Homo sapiens: one gene and its partners. The protein of the gene in region 4 purifies or fractionates together with the protein of the main gene of each other region. This does not show direct contact. Each region holds a gene or a part of one and is shown on either strand. Other genes may lie near its edges.

Region 1 (4,894 bases), on a different chromosome or scaffold from region 4:
GTTTCACTCTTGTTGCCCAGGCTGGAGTGCAATGGCGCGATCTCGGCTCACCGCAAGCTCCACCTCCCGGGTTCAAGTGATTCTCCTGCCTCAGCTTCCCGAGTAGTTGGGATTACAGGCATGTGCCACCACGCCCAGCTAATTTTGTATTTTTAGTAGAGACGGGGTTTCTCCATGTTGGTCAGGCTGGTCTCAAACTCCCAACTTCAGGTAATCCACCCGCCTCAGCCTCCCAAAGTGCTGGGACTACAGGCATGAACCACCGTGCCCGGCACCTCATTGTACAATTCTAAGAAACAAGACAGTTAACATTAGCTCCAAGTTATAAACAGAATTTTTTGATTAACCTGATCAACTTATACTTCTAATTTCTATAGATGAAGATAATTTTTTTTTAAATTATAGTTTAAGTTCTGAGATACATGTGCAGAACGTGCAGGTTTGTTGCATAGGTATACATGTGCCATGGTGGTTTGCTACACCCATCAACCTGTCATCTACATTAGGTATTTCTCCTAATGCTATCCCTCCCCTAGCCCCCAACACCCCAACAGGACCTGATGTGTGACGTTCCCCTCCCTGTGTCCATGTGTTCATTAATATTTTATTTTTGGCCGGGCGTGGTGGCTCACGCCTGTAATCCCAGCACTTTGAGAGGCCGAGGAGGGTGGCTCACTTGAGGTCAGGAGTTCGAGACCATCCTGACCAACATGGAGAAACCCTGTCTCTACTAAAAATACAAAATTATCCAGGTGTGGTGGTGCATGCCTGTAATCCCAGCTACTCGGGAGGCTGAGGCAGGAGAATCGCTTGAACCCGGGAGGCAGAGGTTGCGGTGAGCCGAGATCGTGTCATTGCACTCCAGCCTGGGCAACAAGCCCTAAACTCCATCTCAAAAAAATAATAATAATTTTGTTTAAATTGAGACTAATATCCTCAGTAAGCACAGTATTAAAGATGTAGTGTAGGCTCTGTGAACAACAGCTATTAAAGTACCATAATCTTTTTTCTTTTCTTTTTTTTTTTTTGAGAGGAGTCTCGCTGTGTCGCCCAGGCTAGAGTGCAGTGGCACCATCTCAGCTCACTGCAAGCTCTGCCTCCCGAGTTCACGCCATTCTTTTCGTCTCAGCCTCCTGAGTAGCTGGGACTACAGGCACCCACCACCACGCCCGGCTAATTTTTTGTATTTTTAGTAGAGACGGGGTTTCACCATGTTAGCCAGGATGGTTTCGATCTCCTGACCTTGTGATCTGCCCACCTCAGCCTCCCAAAGTGCTGGCATTACGGGCGTGAGCCACCGCGCCCGGCCTTTTTTTTTTTTCAAGACAGAGTTTTGTTCTTGTCAACCAGACTGGAGTGCAGTGGTGCGATCTTGGCTCACTGCAACCTCTGCCTCCTGGGTTCAAGTGATTCTCCTGCCTCAGCCTCCTGAGTAGCTGGGACTATAGGCATGAGCCACCACGCCTGGCTACTTTTTTGTATTTTTAGTAGAGACGGAGTTTCACCATGTTGGCCAGGCTGGTCTCGAACTTCTAACCTCAGGTGATCCGCCTGCCTTGGCCTCCCAAAGTGCTGGGTTTTGGTTTTTTTTTGAGACAGGGTCTTGCTGTGTTTCCCAGGCTGGAGTGCAGTGGCACAATCACGGCTTACTGCAGCCTCGACCTCCTGGGCTCAAGTGATCCTCCCACCTCAGCCTTCCAAGCAGCTGTCACTACAGGCACATGCCACCATGCACTGCTAACTTTTGCATTTTTTTGTAGAGTTGGTGTTTTGCCATGATGCCCAGGCTAGCACTGTAATCTTAACACTGCCTTATATATTGCTTATTAGATACACCTTTGTGTACATGTGTGTTGTTTTCGATTAAAATTTCCTAATTATGAGGATAAGACCTTTTATTCTTATTTCTGTTTTTTCATTTTTTATTTTTAGCTCCGACTCAGATTTTGAACGGATGTTTGCATGTATACCACAGTGCTACATTAAAAACCAGTCATGTGGATGTGGAGAAGGGTGCTGATCAGGACTCCCTGTTTGCTAACAAATTCTACAGCAGAAACAAAGTATTAAGGTTTGCAGCCAGGAAGCAAGTGCATGGGGAATAAGCCTGCAGCTTCTTCCAAATGAGACAGAGCCAAATCTTTTTTCTGAGTCTGTTTTCTTCATTTCTATTAAACCAAGGTCCTTTTTAAGCAGTCGAATTTCATCCAAAGCCAGAGTGAGCTACTTTGTTTGGGGGAACAGTAACAGTTACCTCCACCACTGACTGGCTGCCATCTGGATTGATCCGGAAAGATCCCATCTGAATGGTCTTCTTGGGGTCCACCTGGGCAATTTCCCATTCTAGTTCATCCACCAGAGCCCTGCATGCTGGTGGAAGAGGAGAGAATGAGAGCAGGGGACAGGGTAGGGGGTAGGGTGTGAGGAGAATGGGATCAACCCAGGATTTCCATTCATCCTTCTCCCAGGCCTTGGATCTCATGCCCTCCCAAGGCTCTGCTTCCTCCACTTCTTTTTCCCGTTGTGCCTTTACCTCCACAGTGGAGATCCTGGCTCCTCCGAGCCCAGGCGGTTCCCAGCAGGGCCCCCAGAAGCAGGGCCAGCCAACCCCAGCCTTTCATCTTTAGCGTAATGGGGTCGCTCCACCTGGGTTTGAGTGGGAATAAAACATAAGTGTGAGGAGCCGACTCCATTTTTCCCTGACCCCCCCAATCCTCACCCCAAGGCTTTCAAAGGCCTCATTGTGACTCTGGCTCTACTTTCCAGGAAATGGCCGGGACACAAAGGGGCTTCTCTGTTCCAGCGCTTGAGGGCTCTGATTCCCCCAGGGTGGTGGGTGGGAGCGCGAGCTCAGGACTTGCGGCTCAGCCCCAGACTCTACGTGGATAGGTGAGGCCCTAAGTGTTGGTACTTTAGCACTGCATGCCTAGGGTTCACGGGGCTTTGTGGCAGCTACAGGAGGTAAGTTGGCGATTACGTGAGGACTACAGGCACTAGGGAACTGCCGGCAGGGAGCCCTCAGTCAGGCCAGGAGGCCAGCGAGGAGAGCAATAACTAGGGCCCATTTGGATCCTGCACCGAAGATTCCTGCGTCCCCACCTCCAGCCCGTAAGTGATTACCCGTACGGACACCAGCCCCCTTTCTAAGGACTCCGCCATTGCTTTCGCTTCAGTCCATCCCCAACCCTCAGCGCCCAGCGCCTCGCCGCCCGCATCCGTCCCACCTCTGCTCCCAGGGCCGCCGCCGTGGCCCAAGCGCTGGAAGACCGCTGGACTCTCACTTTGGCCCCAGTGGCTCCCGAAACTACACCTGGCTGCAGGGAGCAGGGCTGTCCGGGATTCTCCAGAGCGCTTCGCCGCCTGCCACACACGGGGTGTCCCGGCGACCGCCTGACCCAGCTCCCCTGACGCTAACTGGTACCTAAGCGGGACTCCAGCGTGCTGCGGTGCGAGCCCCAATCAGACACCGACCCCAAACCCGCCCCTCCAAACTCTCGCGCGAACAGGCAGCTTAGGAGAGGCTCCCGAACAGCAAGGACCCCGGTCAATCGCCGAAGGACCCAGACTTGCGTGGCGAACAGATCCACGTGACCACCAGGGGTCAGCCGTAGAATAGGAGTGGCCTTAAGCGACGACAGAGTCCGGGCGTGCTGTATGGGAGCGGCTAGTCGTGCGCGTGAGCCAGCCCAGGTGGGCTAGGACCTTCAAAACGGTGCGCTGCCGGCCAGCGAGCAGTCCAGGTTTCAATACACAGGAAACTACATCTCCCAGGAAGCACCGCAGCACCGGACCCATCTTTGTGAGCAACTACAAGTCTCAAGCTATCCTGGGACCTGTAGTTTGTCGGCTTACACAATTAACGGAAACCATACTGTACATCTTCAGTCTGACTTAGGGTACTGGGCAGCTATAGCAAAGACCCAGCATTGCCCAGAAAAGGCATAAATTATACCTTTTTCCCCTTTTTTTGAGACGGAGTCTCGCCCTATCGCCCAGGCTGGCATACAGTGGCGTGATCTCGGCTCACTGCAACCTCCGCCTCCCGGGTTGAAGCAATTTTCTGCCTCAGCTAGGGTTACAGTCGCCATCCACCACTCCCAGCTAATTTTTGTATTTTTAGTAGAGACGGGGTTTCACCATCTTGGTCAGGCTGGTCTTTAACTCCTGACCTCGTGTTCCACCCACCTCTGCCTCCCAAAGTGCTAGGATTACAGAAGTGAGCCACCGCGCCCGGCCTAATTATACCCTTTCATATCCATAACTTTGGATTCCGGACCTTTACCTTCAAAGGAAGGAGAGGAAGACTGAAGCCAGAGAACCCACACTAGCAGTTCTCTAATGAGATAAATAACAAACGATATTTTATTTTTATTTTATAAAACATGCAGTTTACAACAAATTTTTAAAAAATGGAACAAAACTTGGGACAGGCAAGTGGGATGGAAGACAGATGCTTCTCAGCCATCAGCAGGAATAAATGAAGCCGGCAGCCAAGCTTTGTCCAGGATCCAAAGGCCCTTTTGGCAATGGTATTGGCAACACTGGTTTGCTTGGGCCACCAACACTCTACTTGCTGGCCCCTCCAGGTATCCCTGAAGCAGTTGGTGACTTGTGCTAAGTCTTGAACTACTGTGGTATCCTCTGTCACTGTCCAGGACTTCAATCCCTAGCCAGCTAGGAACTTACAGTTATGGTTCCAGGAGCTTCTCTGCCTGGATATTAGTCACCCAGGATATTAAGAATACCAATTACTTTCCATCTGGGTCAATTCTAGACTCCATGTCTGTACCACTGTTTTGCAAAGAATGAAGAAGGAATGAATCTGGCTCCTAGAACCTTTGCAACAATTCTGCTGTGTTCCAGTTCAATTAATAGCACCATCTGTGACCCTAGA
Region 2 (4,190 bases), about 72 Mb from region 4:
TTTACAGGATGTGGCGTTCTTTCTTTCCCATTAGAGATACTTTTTAAACTCCAGAGGTCTTTCCTCATTCTTTTTTTTATCCTAAGCAACGATGATCAGTTGTCGTCGTTGTCTTTTTTTTTTTTTTTTTTTTTTGAGACGGAGTTTCGCTCTTGTCGCCCAGGCTGGAGCACAATGGTGCAATCTCAGCTCACGGCAACCTTTGCCTCCTGGGTGCAAGTGATTCTCCAGCCTCAGCCCCCTGAGTAGCTGGGATTACAGGCATGCGCCACCAAGCATGGCTAATTTTTGTATTTTAGTAGAGACAGGGCTTCATCATGTTGGCCGGGCTGGTCTTGAACTCCTGACTTCAGGTGATCTGCCCACCTCCTAAATTGTCATTTTTAATTCAATATTGTTAACATCACTTAGGAAGTAACTTGTTTTACTTTGAGATTAACAGGCACCCCCAAACAACATTATTAATATGTGTTTATTTTTAAAATATTTTATTACAGTGTAATATACATACAGAAAAGCATATTAAGTATAAATTTAAAGTGTCAGAAATTATTGCTAAAGCACACACTGGCTGGGTGCGGTGTCTCACACCTATAATCCCAGCACTTTTTTTTTTTTTTTTTTTTTTTTAAAGACAGGGTCTCGCTATGTTGCCCAGGTTGATCTCAAACTCCTGGGCTCAGGTGATCCTCCCACTTTGGCCTCCCAAAGTGTTGGGATTTATAGGCATGAGCCACTGTGCCCAGCCCCCCAAAACTTAACTACTGGTAGCCTCCTGTTGACTGAAAGCCTTACAGGTAATATAAACAATTGATTAACTACATGTTTTGTATGTTACAAGTATTATGTTACTGCGTTCTTATAATACAGTAAGCTAGAGAAAAGAAAATGTTAAAATCGTAAGGAAGTGGATCATCATAAAGATCTTTATCCTGGTGGTCTTTCACATTGAGCAGGCTGAGGAGGAGGAGGGGTTGGTCTCACTGTCTTGGGTGATAAAGGCGATAGAAGGAGAGGCAGGCTCACTTGGTGTAACTTTACAAAAATACATCATAATTTATGCCTAACTTTTGTGCTTTTTCGTTTCTCTTAAGATGCTTCTATGTGGTACTAATAATCTTCCTTCTACTGTTTAGTTTCAGTGTCCATATCATAAAAGCGTCCATGTTGTAAAATAAGCCAAGCAGTCTCAAATAGAACTCTTGGTCAGATTGTCTAGTGTCAATTTGTTTCCTGGCTTTGCTTCTTCTACATATTCTTCCGTATCCTCTGGCACTGATTCAGAAGCACTCATCTCTATCAAATCATCTTCTGTTAATTCCTCTGGTGTGATGTCTGTTAGCTCTTGAATTTCAGGATCCATATCTTGAAACCCTTCACCCCCACCAAATAATCCACAATCTCATTAGTTCCTTGATTGGCACTGTCGTAAATCCCGTGAAGTCATGCGTAACATCTGGATACAGTTTTCTCGAGCAGGAATTCATTGTTTGAGACTTGACAGCTTTCTTAGCTTTTTCTGTAACAACAATGGCATACACAGTGGTGAAACCCTTCCAGACTTTCATGATGTTCTCCATGAGGGTTGACAGTCTTTTCCATAGAGCAAGGATCCCCACACCCCAGGCCACGTGGCAGGTGCCTGAGCTCCACCTCCTGTCAGATCAATGGTGACATTAGATTCTCATAGGAGTGTGAACCCTATTGTGAACTGTGCATGCGCGGGCTCTAGGTCGCCCACTCCTTATGAGAGTCTAATGCCTGATGATCTGAGGTGGAACAGTTTCATCCTGAAACCTTCCCACCCGACCCCACACCACGCAAAAGTTGTCTTTCCCGAAACCGCTCACTGGTGCTAAAAAGGTTGGGGACCACTGCGTAGAGTGCCATGTGTGCTGAATCTTAAAGGTCCTCTGTGACCCCCGATCTAGAGGTTAAATTGGAGATGTTGTGTTTGAGGACGAGTAAACCACCTTGACACCTTTATAGGGTTGAACTCATAGGGTTCATAGGTGGCCAAAGAGAGACATTGTCCAGAATCAAAACAACTTTAAAAGGTACTTTACTGCCAGGCACGTGGCTTGAGCCTGCAGCCCTAGCTGCTCAGGTGGCTGACACAGTCACATCACTTAAGCCCAGGAGTTCGAGGCTGCAGTGAGCTATGATTGTGCCACTGCACTCCAGCCTGGGCGATGGAGTAATGCCCTATCTCTCTTTTTTTTTTAAAAGCAGTTCTGTATTGGCAAGGTACTTCCTTACCCTGGGGACAGAACATGGACGGAACCAGGAGGGTTCTCGTTGTCCAGACCTTCTACAACCACAAGACTGGCAGCTGGTGTTTATCTTTTCCCTTCAAGGCTCCGGGGTTAGCAGCTTTATAGTTAAGGACAGTTCTGATCATAAACCCTACTGCATTGGCACAAGACAGTAGAGTTAGCCTGTCCCTTCCTGCCTTAAATCCTGATGCTTGCTTCTCTTTTCTTATAAATAAATGTCCTTTGTGGCATTTTTTTCCCCAGAATCAGGCACTTTTATTCTCATTAAAAACCTGTACAGGCAGATCAGATGTCCTTTCTCCTTAATAATTTTTTCTTTTTCTGGACAGTCTCACTTTGCCACCCAGGCTGGATTACAGTGGCTCGATTGCAGATGGCTCACTGCAGCCTTGACCTCCTGGGCTCAGGTGATCCTCCCACTTCAGGCCACCCCCAAGTAGCTGGGACTGCAGGTGTGTGTGTGCCATCATGCCTGGCTAATTTTAAAAATTTTTTGTAGAGATAGTGTCTCACTATGGTTGCCCAAGCTGTTCTCAAACTCCTGGGCTCAAGAGATCCTCCTGCCTCAGCCTCCCAAAGTGTGGGATTACAGGTGTGAGCCATTGCACCTGGCCCTTTCTCATTAGTGATTTTCTTAATGGCCTCTGGGAACTCGTCTGCAGCCTGTTGGTTGGCAGAAGCTGCTTCTCTGTTATCTTGTAATTTTAAAGCCAAACCTCTTTCTAAAATTATCAAACCATTGTTTGCTCGCATTAAATTCTCCAACTTTAGATTCTTCACCTTCTTTTTGCTTTAAGTTATCATATAGTGACATCATTTTTTCTCAAATCATATTAGAGTCTATAGTCTTGTACAATCCTGCACTCACATAAAAGATGCATCGGCAATACAAAAGGCACTTCACAAAATATGCAAGGTTTTCATGCTGGTATCGCTACTGCAGTGACAGCTTTGTGAATTTCCTTTTATTTGATTTTATTTTTACAATGGTCTTTATGGTGGATTCATGTTTAAATGATGGGCAGCCGCAGTTGCAGAGCTCCATCTAAGGTACTCATCAAGCGTTCTACTTTTTCTTGTAATGTCACAACTTTGCTTCTTGGGAATGCTTCCAGCATCTCTAGTGGCATTTTGTATGACTCCCATGGTGTTACTCAAGGTTTACAATATTGCACTAAATAGGATAAAAAATACTCAAAAACCAAGACAGATCACTTTTTATTGCAACAGGCAATTTACTGGAGCAACAAACTACTCACACTGAAACAACTAGCATCATAGAGCTTTTTTTTTTTTTTTTCCTGAGGCAGAGTCTTACTCTGTTGCCCAGGCTGGAGTGCAGTGGCATGATCTCTGCTCACTGCAACCCCTGCCTCCCGGGTTCAAGTGATTCTTCTGCATCAGCCTCCTGAGTAGCTAGGACTACAAGCGCAAGCCACCATGCCTAATTTTTTTGTATTTTTGGTAGAGACGGGGTTTCACCATGTTGGCTAGGCTGGTCTCGAGCGCCTAACCTCAAGTGATCCACCTGCCTCAGCCTCCCAAAGTGCTGGGATTACAGACGTGCCTGGCCGCATCATAGAGCATTTTAAGCAAACTTGCAACACTTGAGGAGACTGCAGTAGCAACAAGAGATAGCTGTGAAACTGTGACATAGAATAGTATGTACTGTAGTTAATTTTATGCAGTTATGATCCAACTGCAGATCCAACACCATGTGTTGTATGTGCATGTTTTGATAAATTTTAACGTTACATTTTAACTAGGCTTGTGAATATTTTATGGTAGTAAATGATAAAGTAGACTATTCTCTATGTATAATGCACTTATGACATAACTAACTTTTAAGGTTTTTTTAAATATTTCTGGGCTATGTGGTTTATCTGAGTTTCTTCAAATTGTCACAAGCCTCCA
Region 3 (4,846 bases), on a different chromosome or scaffold from region 4:
TAGTTCCTACTGGTAGATTAACAGGGTTCATTTTCAATTCTGTTGTTTTCACAGATACAAGTGCTGAGAAATGGTTTTACATAAATAGGTGAGAATGCTAGTAGTTTTGTTGTAAGCATGTCAATCAATCGTTTGGTTTCTTTCCGAGTTGCATGCCAAAAACCAAATAGTGTTCCTTCATCAGCTGACAATTCATGGGCCACCATTAATTTTGTTGAAAGCAAAGAACTGGAAACCATCTGACTTGAAAAGAATTTGTTATCCTGTTATTAGAGTCATTCACTTTCTCTAGTGACTTTTAATTATACTAATTACTCTCAGAGGCATTTAGGCAGGGTTGAGAAATTCAAGATATTAATTTCAACACATCTTTAGCATCACAATATCACAGTAATTTAAATATATTTTAGTTGTAGCTATTTAGCTCACTTTATTGTAAATAATAATTATGCTAATTAGCAACGATAGTATGTTTAACCAATTAATCATCAGATTAACTTTCGGTCAGAATAATGGACTTCAATTTTTAAGTCAAAGCAATGTACAGGCGTCCCAGTCACCATATTTCACTTCTGAATTCCAAGAGAGAAATGGCGTTGCGCCTTACTGACGCAAATATGTACCTAGATAAAGTAAGACGCTTTCATTTCAGGTATGTCTAACCCACGCTATCCTTGCTTTGTTCCAGGGCACTCTCGCAGGGAAAACGCCGCCTCTGACTACACTTGGGGTGGTTAAGACGAGATCTTCAAATGAAAATTCTCAACGCTACCGTCCACTCTCTCATACGCTTGAATTCCGAACACCCCAATACTGGCCAAAAGACTCCATTTCTCATGCTTGGTCTTGCTTTTGAGGTAGCTCTAACTCAGAGGCACGATTTTTAGAGCCTGGGAAGTCGGCTGCTGTTCAGTCCTTCCTAGCCTCCTCAGGCGGGAGCCGCGGCCCACTCAGTCAGTTGCGGCCCACTCAGTCAGTTCCGGCCCCAGCCCCGACTACCTGTCGCCTTGTTGGGGGAAGGAAGGCAGATACCGCAGCCCAGTCAGGGTAAGCCGCTGACCCAGAGGATGGAACTGCGGCTCTGGAGATTAGAAAGAGGAGGACTTCGCCGCGTTCACTAGCCCAGGAGGAAAGCCAGAACCCTAGGCCGGAACCCAGCGTCAAGACGTGGGGGAAGAATGTTGATGCAACACAGCTCAGCCGGGCCCGGAACTCGGCGTTTGGGTCCCCGCCCTCTTTGGGCCGGAAGTGAGGAAGGTGGGGCTGGGGCTTTTCCTGTAGAAACTAGGAGGGACTAGGGAGAGTCTGCAAGGGGAAGAGTGTGTCTGTGACACTGCCAGCAGCGCGCAGAGGGAGGGATGGGGGCGGGTATCGGCGTAGGGGCCCTCGGAAAGAACGGATATTGCTGTGACACCGCGGGGACGCTCTGAAGGGACGAGTGTCGGTGTGGCACCGGTGCACGCTGAAGGAGCCGGCGGAACCGGGTGGCCATGGGGATGTGGGCATCGCTGGACGCTTTGTGGGAGATGCCGGCCGAGAAGCGTATCTTCGGGGCCGTGCTGCTCTTTTCCTGGACAGTGTATCTTTGGGAGACCTTCCTAGCACAGCGGCAGGTGAGCCTAGACAGGGTCCAACCTGACCCCCATACCCGGCCAGCCCTGGAGTAGCCTTGGCTTCGACCCTGAGACTCTTGATTGCTTCGGTCCCCGCGCCAGTCTCGTCTTTGTGGTCCCTGCTGAGTCTCGTAACTTGGCCCGATGGCGGACTGTGGCTTTGAGGAGGGTCTTGGTGCGTCAAGGAAGTTTTCTGTAACGTTATCATGGGACCCAATCCCTTTAGGGCCTGGAGGAAGGCTTGGGCTCTTGTGCCCTCCCTGCAGCTTCCTTGGGATCCTTGGGCCCAGACTTGGCCTCCTTTATCTTTGGAATAAGCCTTTAAAAGGATTTAGACACCCAACTTCCTCATGACATTTATGTAATCATGCCTAACCATAGGATTTTGCAGTCCTTCCAAGAACTTGCACTCTTGTTTCTCCTTAAAGTGCATATATTGTTTCTGCTTGAAAAAACAAACAAACAAACAAAAAACTTATCGGGCCCGGCGTGGTGTCTCATGCCTGTAATCCCAGCACTTTGGGAGGCCGAGGCGGGCGGATCACCTGGGGTCAGGAGTTCGAGACCAGCCTGACCAACGTGGCGAAAACCCGTCTCTACTAAAAATAGAAAAATTAGCCGGGTGTGGTGGCGCGCACCTGTAGTCCCAGCTACTTGGGAGGCTGAGGCAGGAGAATCATTTGAACCCAGTAGGCGGAGGTTGCAGTGAGCTGAGATTGTGCCACTGCACTCCAGCCTGGGCGACAAGAGTGAAACTCAATCTCAAAATAAATAAATAAATGAAATTAAATGAAATATATTTCTCGTTTTTCATAAAATCAACATTATTTTAGTTTAAATATTAAAATGGTAAAATAAAAAGTGAAAGTTAACAATTTACCTGAGATAACCATGGTTTAGAGATCTGAACTTTTATTTATTTATTTTTAATCTTTATTTATTTATTTAATTTTAGAGTCTAGCTCTGTCACCAGGCTGGAGTACAGTGGCGTTATCTCGGCTCACTGCAAGAAACTAGGAGGGACGAGGGAGAGTCTGCAAGGGGAAGAGTGTGTCTGTGACACTGCCAGCAGCGCGCAGAGGGAGGGATGTTCAAATGATTCTCCTGCCTCAGCATCCCGAGTAGCTAGGATTACAGGCACGTGCCACCACGCCCAGCTAATTTTAGTATTTTTAGTAGAGACGGGGTTTCACCATCTTGGCCAGGATAGAATATTTATTGTATTTAGAGACAGGGGCTCACTCTGCCACCCAGACTGGAGCACAGTAGCATCATCATAGCTCAAGGCAGCCTCGAACTCGTGGGCTCAAACGACCCCTCCACCTCCACCTCAGCCTTCTGAGTTGCTAGGACCACAGGTGCGGATCACTGTGCCTGGCTAATTGTTTGATTTTTTTGTAGAGATGTTGCCCGGGGTGGTCTGGAGTTCCTGGACTCAAGTCATCTTGCCGCCTCCACCTCCCAAAGGGCTGGGATTACAGGCATGAGCCACCGTGCTCGATCTCCCCTCAGCTTTTATTGGCACACAACAATATATAGGGAAAGCATGTTGTAGTGGCCCATTATTTTGTTTGGTATCCATTCTCTGTATTACATTTCCTGGACTGAAATTACCCTTACCTTTTATAATTTAGTATAATGAGATAGTTGATCTTTCTCCTTTTTTTTTTTTTTTTTTTTTTTTAAGGAGATAGATTCTCTGTCACCCAGGGTGTAGTGCTGTGGCACAATATGGGCTTACTGCAACCTCTGCCTCCCAGGCTCAAGTGATCCTCCCACCTCAGCCCCCCAAATAGCTGGGACCACAGGTGCATACCACCACACTCTGCTAATTTTTGTATTTTTTGTAGAGACGGGATTTCACCACATTGCTCAGGCCAGTCTTGAACTCCTGGGCTCAAGGAATCCTTCTGCCCCTGTCTTCCAAACTGCTGGGATTACAGGCGTGACCCACCGTGCCCGGCTGAAAATTGGTCTTTTCTCACAGACCTGATATGTTTCCATCTGGTGATCCTCAAGTTTCTGGCATTTAGGACCAAATTTAATGAGCAGCCTCAGTATCTGTTCATACTCACAGTTAGCATGTGTGCTTCTCCTTTGCATGAATTTGTTTTCCGTATTATAGGAGGTATGTAATACCCAGAATGAGTAGTACATGTAACAAAGTTGTGATGTTAACAGCTTTGGTTTACATATACAAACTGAAGTGTGATGACAACCCTGATTATAGTTTTACCAGTCAGGTCACCTCAGGTTCTCTTGTTCTGCTTTTATTTTCCTGCATCAGTCGTTTCATGTACTTGATCAAGTGCAATATTTGTGTAGGTATAAAGCAAATTCAACAGATATAAGTGGCAAGCTATAAACCATTCGATGTTTGATCATAAATGACTATTGTAATAAACAACTATTTCACTAAAGTGTTTTCTTTAAAATATTTCAGAGAAGGATATATAAAACAACAACTCATGTACCACCGGAGTTAGGACAGATCATGGATTCTGAAACATTTGAGAAATCTCGACTCTATCAACTGGATAAAAGCACTTTCAGCTTCTGGTCAGGACTCTATTCAGAGACTGAAGGCACTGTGAGTAATTTACTTCTTGGAGAGACAGTCTGTCTGGTTGTTTTCATTTTCATATTTTTGTAACACAAAAGAGGGTACCACACTTACAAGTCCCAGAATGCTTTCTTAACCTTTGTTATTGATAGTAACGGCTGTGGAGCAAAAAAGACAGAAACATAACTGCTTAGTCAGTTGAAAACTATAGAATATGGGAACTATTACCCTGAAGCCAGGTAGGAAAAAGATCCTCTTCCATTAGGATCCAGCTGAGATGTCATGTCTTCTAAGCAACCATTTGAAACTCCCTGCCTGACGAATGTGGATAGGGTAGCATTCTATCATTATTCCTGTCAGAGTACTTATCTCATTATGTTGAATTTGCCTGGATTTTTTTTTTTTTCTTCTGGCACAGTCTTGCTCTGTCACCCAGGCTGAAGTACAGTGGCGTGATCTTGGCTCACTGCAACCTCTGCTTCCTAGGCGCAAATGATCCTCCCACCTCAGCCTCCCGAGTAGTTGGGACTACAGTTGCATGCCACCATACCGTCTCAGAGTGCTGGGATTATAGGCATGAGCCACACTGTACCTGGCCTGATTTGACTGTTTAATTGGCAGACTGGTAGTTCCTTAAAGAAATAGTTAAGTCTTGTTCATCATTTTATA
Region 4 (4,710 bases):
CAAACCCACTCGTTCCTCAAGACCCTTCCCTACTTGGCCCAAACAACAGAGCTTTCCTACCAGGCCCACATCTGGGCTCAGATACTGGATCACCTTTATGTTTAAGCCCCAGTTTACAACCCTCAACCTTGATTTTCATCAACATCTTCCAACAAGGATTAAAGGACCTGCTCACGACTTCCAGAAATCTGCCTGCGCCAAGGGGTTGGAGGAACTGTAGGATTCTTTGCAGGGAATGGACACTCCACCCTTGCGCCCCCGCAACTCTAGTGAGCTGGAAACTCTGAAGCCAGACACAGGCCCACCATCACACCATCTAGGAATGGAATGTGCATCAGACTGGGGCCTCAGTATGACTTTGAGGAATAAAGGCTCTTTTAACCCCACACTCCATGAGTGTCTTCAACCCCCCAATGTAAGATCACAAAGCTAATTATTTAGAAGTGGTTGCAAACTGGTATGTGGAAAGAGGCCCTGCTGATGTAGGGTGGCAATAGGGGACAGTGAACTGGAGCTCCTTGGGGGAAGGATACAGTCAGCATGTACCTGGCTGGCCACCCCTGTCCAATGCCAAAGCCACCAGGGAGCAGCTGAAAAGCAAGTTTCAGGGACACTCCTGGAAAATGGCTGCCAACGCAGCTGCTTACACATTCAAGCCAGGCACTGAGAACTCTGACTGTGGTCCCCACCTATCTCTTTATGCCTTCATCTTCCAGGCCACAGACACCTCAACCTCGTCTAAGGACATGTTGCTTCCCACCTCCCTGTCCAGCCACCCATCCCTCTCCAGGGATGATGGTACTGGGCTAGCCTACTCACCTCACCAAGTTACATGGGGCTCAAAACCACACCGTCGTGAAATACGTGGAAATGCTTTGCAAACTCTCAAGCCCTCTACAAATGCATCCGATTTGACAATTCTGCCAACAGATCACACGGGGAGCCAGAGGCTCCAGGCAGTGCTGAAAGATGGCCAGGCAGAAGGAATGGGCCAGCCCACCAGGGCTGAGCACTCCTGCTCCTTCCCTCTCCCGTTGGGACCTAAGATGCCAGGTGTTAAAAACAACAACACCACATACACACACACACACACACACACACACACACAGAAGGAGAGGTAGGGGGCAAATAAACCATCCCAAGTCCAGGTTATGTGGAAGAACCTCCGCCTCTCCTTATACCCCATGCATTCATTTCTGGCCCATTGTCACTCAGCCTCAAAGGCTACCACAACCACCAAGCAAGACACAAGAGCCCAACAGAATAAAACCACAAAGCTGGGGCAAAACCCTCCTGGGATACAGTGTGTTTGGTGTCTTCATTCTCAAGAGGGGATCTACTTTCAGAAGAAAGGGGAGAGAAACCAAGCACACTTACATCCTGAGCCCTTCTGCACCACCCCCCCTACCTGGGATCTCTGCAGCAGCCTGGCAGAGAGGAGGCAAGGAGGCAGTCAAGAGCTCAGCTCCAAGTAACTCCCGTGGGGAGAATCCTAGCTGCACAGGGGTACCCGTACCTGGCATTCAAATCATGCAGCCTCTCTCTGGCCCTTCCTTGCCCACCTCCTCCTCTTAACTGCCTTCCCCATCATCTCTTACTCAACAACTGGCAATGACTGCTGAGACTCCCAGTGACTGGGCACTTTCACGTGCCAAGCGCTGTGTTGGGTGCTTCCTGTATTTTTTCTAATCCTTTCAACACTGCAAGATGGATATCATTACCACCACTAACAAACAAGAAAACTGAGGCAGGGCCCAAGGTCACGCAGCTCCTGAGTGTCTAGCTGGCTAAAAGCCCATGTTCTTTCCACTACATAACACTTGAATTTATCTTGTAGATAACAGAGAGGAAAGTAAGGATGAAAGTGTTGTTCTGGGAAAATTAGTCTCTCCCCCTCCCACCCAACCCTACATGCGGCCTGATTGATCTTGTTATTAAAAGGGCAGCTTTCATCAAGTCTCTCCATTACCTACAGAATCGAGTCCCCCACAGCTTTGCCAGGCATTTAAAGTTCTTTACGATCCACTTTTTCAGTCTTACTCCCCTCATCCCCAGACTCAAACCCTCCCTCCATCCAGCCTGGCCTATCATTCCTCATTTCCCATGTCTCTGGCTTGGAAGGTTTCCTTCTCTGCCTGTGACATTAGTTCCATCAGCCAAACACGGACCGGGGCTGACGACATGCCAGGCCCTGGGCTAGGTGCTGGGGACACTACAGCCAGGACAGGGGGCTCCCTGCTGTCACAGAGCTCCAAGTCTGCCCTCCTTGTGAGGCCAGTCCACACCTTGCTCTTTCCTGGGGCCTTCTCTGATCACTCGGTGTCCCACTGCTTGGCCTCGTCCTGGATCCCCAGCACACAGGGGCTGCCACTCTTATGGCACTCAGCCACACTTCCACCTTATATGCCGGGTCTGTTTTAAGACTTCCGCTGTAATGTGTTTATTTCTGTGGGAAATGTGCACTACAGGTTCCAAACAGCATTTTAAATGGCAATTCAGTCCTCAGGCCAACCCACAAAAGCCTATTAAATATATAATCGTCCCAGAGAAGTACAGAACCTAAATAAGTGTACCTTAAAAGCTCTACAGGAGATGCCAGGAACAAACATCTGCCTCCTGCACCTCCACCCACTGTCCTCCAGGGTCTGAGCTTCAAGCGACCATCAGGGGCAGAGGCAGAGAAGCAGGCGGGAGATGGATGAGTGGGAAGAACCCGATTTACATTCAGCAGATCTGGCTCTTCTCCCAGCTCTGCCTTCACTAACTGGGTGGCCTTGAGTGAGTCCCTTCCCTCCCTAAGCCTCGCTATTCTCCTATAAAAGGAGAAGGCTGAGTTAGATCAGTTCTGAATCTCACAGATCAGCAGAATATATATATTTTTAAATATAAAATGGATTTTATATTATTAAAAATAAATTTTATCAAGAAAGGGCTTTTAAAAAGAAATCACAATATACTACAACCAGCCTCATTTTTCAAAGGGATGCTGTAACCCCCTCCCCCTCAAAATATCGTCATGTCAGAAAAATTGACAACTTTTTAAACTGAAAACATTTGCATTCATGAAAAACAAACAAACAAAAAAATACACCATTTTTTTTTTCCAGTTTGACTGCAGACCAGAAAACTCTATCCCAGCCCAGCTTCAGTCCTTGGCCCAATGCTTGAGAACCACTGAGCTAGGAGACCTAGAGTTCACTCCAGCTCGACGTTTCTCCATCCTACAGGCTGGATGGAGCCAACAGGACAATCAGCATGGACGGCCCTAGAGAAGAGTCAGCTGCAGGGATGAGCTGAGCTGGACAGCAGGAAAGCAGGCAGTCAGCGCAGGGATGGGAGCAGGGCAGCATGGCTCGGCAGGGATCGCCCTGTGCCCTAGGGCTACCTCCTGCCCCTGTGTCCAGGAGCACTTGGCAGGGAGGGCACCGCCACCCATAGCCTCTGAGGGCACAGACACCCAGCCTGGAAGCTCTTGGAACTAACCTGTCCCACGTGTTTGACAGTGACACCTTCCTCCCCAGTATTCTTTTGGAAGGCTAAGGGTTCCCAAAGCAACATTTTAAAAAATCTTTATTAACTTTTCTGATTATAAACTAATACATATTCATGTGAAAAACTTGGAATCCACAGAAAAGCATAAGCAAAGAAGCAGAAGTCATCACAACTCCACCTTCCAGAACAATGACTGTTAACATTTTGATGCACTAATTCTTCATACATGTAACTTCAGCCACCCTCAGATTTGGTTTTACATCCTGCTTTTCCCTTACTTATCACACTTGGGCATTTTTCCACATCCTTAGATATTCTTCATAAACATCATAAAATGTTTTCATAATAAACATAATATTCTGGTAAATAAAAATATTCTTTATAAACATTGCAATGGACTGAATATTTCTTCTTCTTCTTCTTCTTTTTTTTTTTTTTTGAGATGGAGTCTTGCTCCATCCCCCAGGCTGGAGTGCAGTGGCGCGATCTCAGCCCACTGCACCCTCTGCCTCCTGGGTTCAAGCGATTCTCCTGCCTCAGCCTTCTGAGTAGCTGGGACTACAGGCGCCCGCTACCATGCTTGGCTAATTTTTGTATTTTTAGTAGAGACGGGGTTTCACCATGTTGGCCAGGCTGGTCTCGAACTCCTGACCTCAGGTGATCCACCCGCCTCAGCCTCCCAAACTGCTGGGATTACAGGTGTGAGCAACTGTGCCCGGCCAGGACTGAGTATTTCTGTCATTCCCCTGAAAATTCATATGTTAAAATCCTAACCCCCAAAGTGGTGGTGTTAGGAGGTGGGGCCCTTGGTACGTAATTAGGTCATGAGGGTGGATCGCTCATGAATAGGATTAGTGCCCTTGAAAAAGGGACCCAAGAGAACTGTCTAGTCTTCTTTCTATCATATGAGAATACAGTGAGAAGTCAAGAGTCTTCTGGAGGAGGGTCCTCACTAGAATTCAACCATGCTGGCACCCTGATTTCGGACTTTTGGTCTGCAGAACTGTGAAAAATACATTTCAATTGTTCTACACCACCAGTCTATGGGATATTTCTTATAGCAGGCCAAACTGAAAAAGATAAATATCACTTTCCATGATATGGACAAGGCCAGATATTATTTAACCATGCCACTATTATTGAGCATTTAACCCATTTCCACATTTTGCTATTGTAAAAAATGTGGTGGGTGTATATCCCTGTACACGAATCCCTGCA

What was found.
Region 1: the proteins of PDIA5 (region 4) and CNPY2 purify together in Homo sapiens (affinity purification with mass spectrometry; 2 studies listed by BioGRID and IntAct, with this or other methods). This does not show direct contact.
Region 2: the proteins of PDIA5 (region 4) and PPP1R2 fractionate together in Homo sapiens (co-fractionation; one large-scale study listed by BioGRID). This does not show direct contact.
Region 3: the proteins of PDIA5 (region 4) and ZMPSTE24 fractionate together in Homo sapiens (co-fractionation; one large-scale study listed by BioGRID). This does not show direct contact.

Annotation. Positions count from the first base shown.
Region 1 is NC_000012.12:56,312,597-56,317,490, forward strand, and holds the start of CNPY2 (protein canopy homolog 2 isoform 1 precursor), read right to left. Parts: upstream 3,393-4,894; 5' UTR 3,225-3,392; intron 2,647-3,224; 5' UTR 2,622-2,646; coding exon 2,534-2,621; intron 2,371-2,533; coding exon 2,255-2,370; coding exon of another isoform or gene 2,204-2,254; exon of another isoform or gene 1,899-2,203; intron 1-1,898. UniProt on the Homo sapiens protein: Positive regulator of neurite outgrowth by stabilizing myosin regulatory light chain (MRLC). It prevents MIR-mediated MRLC ubiquitination and its subsequent proteasomal degradation.
Region 2 is NC_000003.12:195,532,734-195,536,923, reverse strand, and holds part of PPP1R2 (protein phosphatase inhibitor 2), read left to right. Parts: intron 1-4,190. UniProt on the Homo sapiens protein: Inhibitor of protein-phosphatase 1.
Region 3 is NC_000001.11:40,256,782-40,261,627, forward strand, and holds the start of ZMPSTE24 (CAAX prenyl protease 1 homolog), read left to right. Parts: upstream 1-1,454; 5' UTR 1,455-1,490; coding exon 1,491-1,613; intron 1,614-4,057; coding exon 4,058-4,204; intron 4,205-4,846. UniProt on the Homo sapiens protein: Transmembrane metalloprotease whose catalytic activity is critical for processing lamin A/LMNA on the inner nuclear membrane and clearing clogged translocons on the endoplasmic reticulum.
Region 4 is NC_000003.12:123,069,311-123,074,020, reverse strand, and holds part of PDIA5 (protein disulfide-isomerase A5 precursor), read right to left. Parts: intron 1-4,710.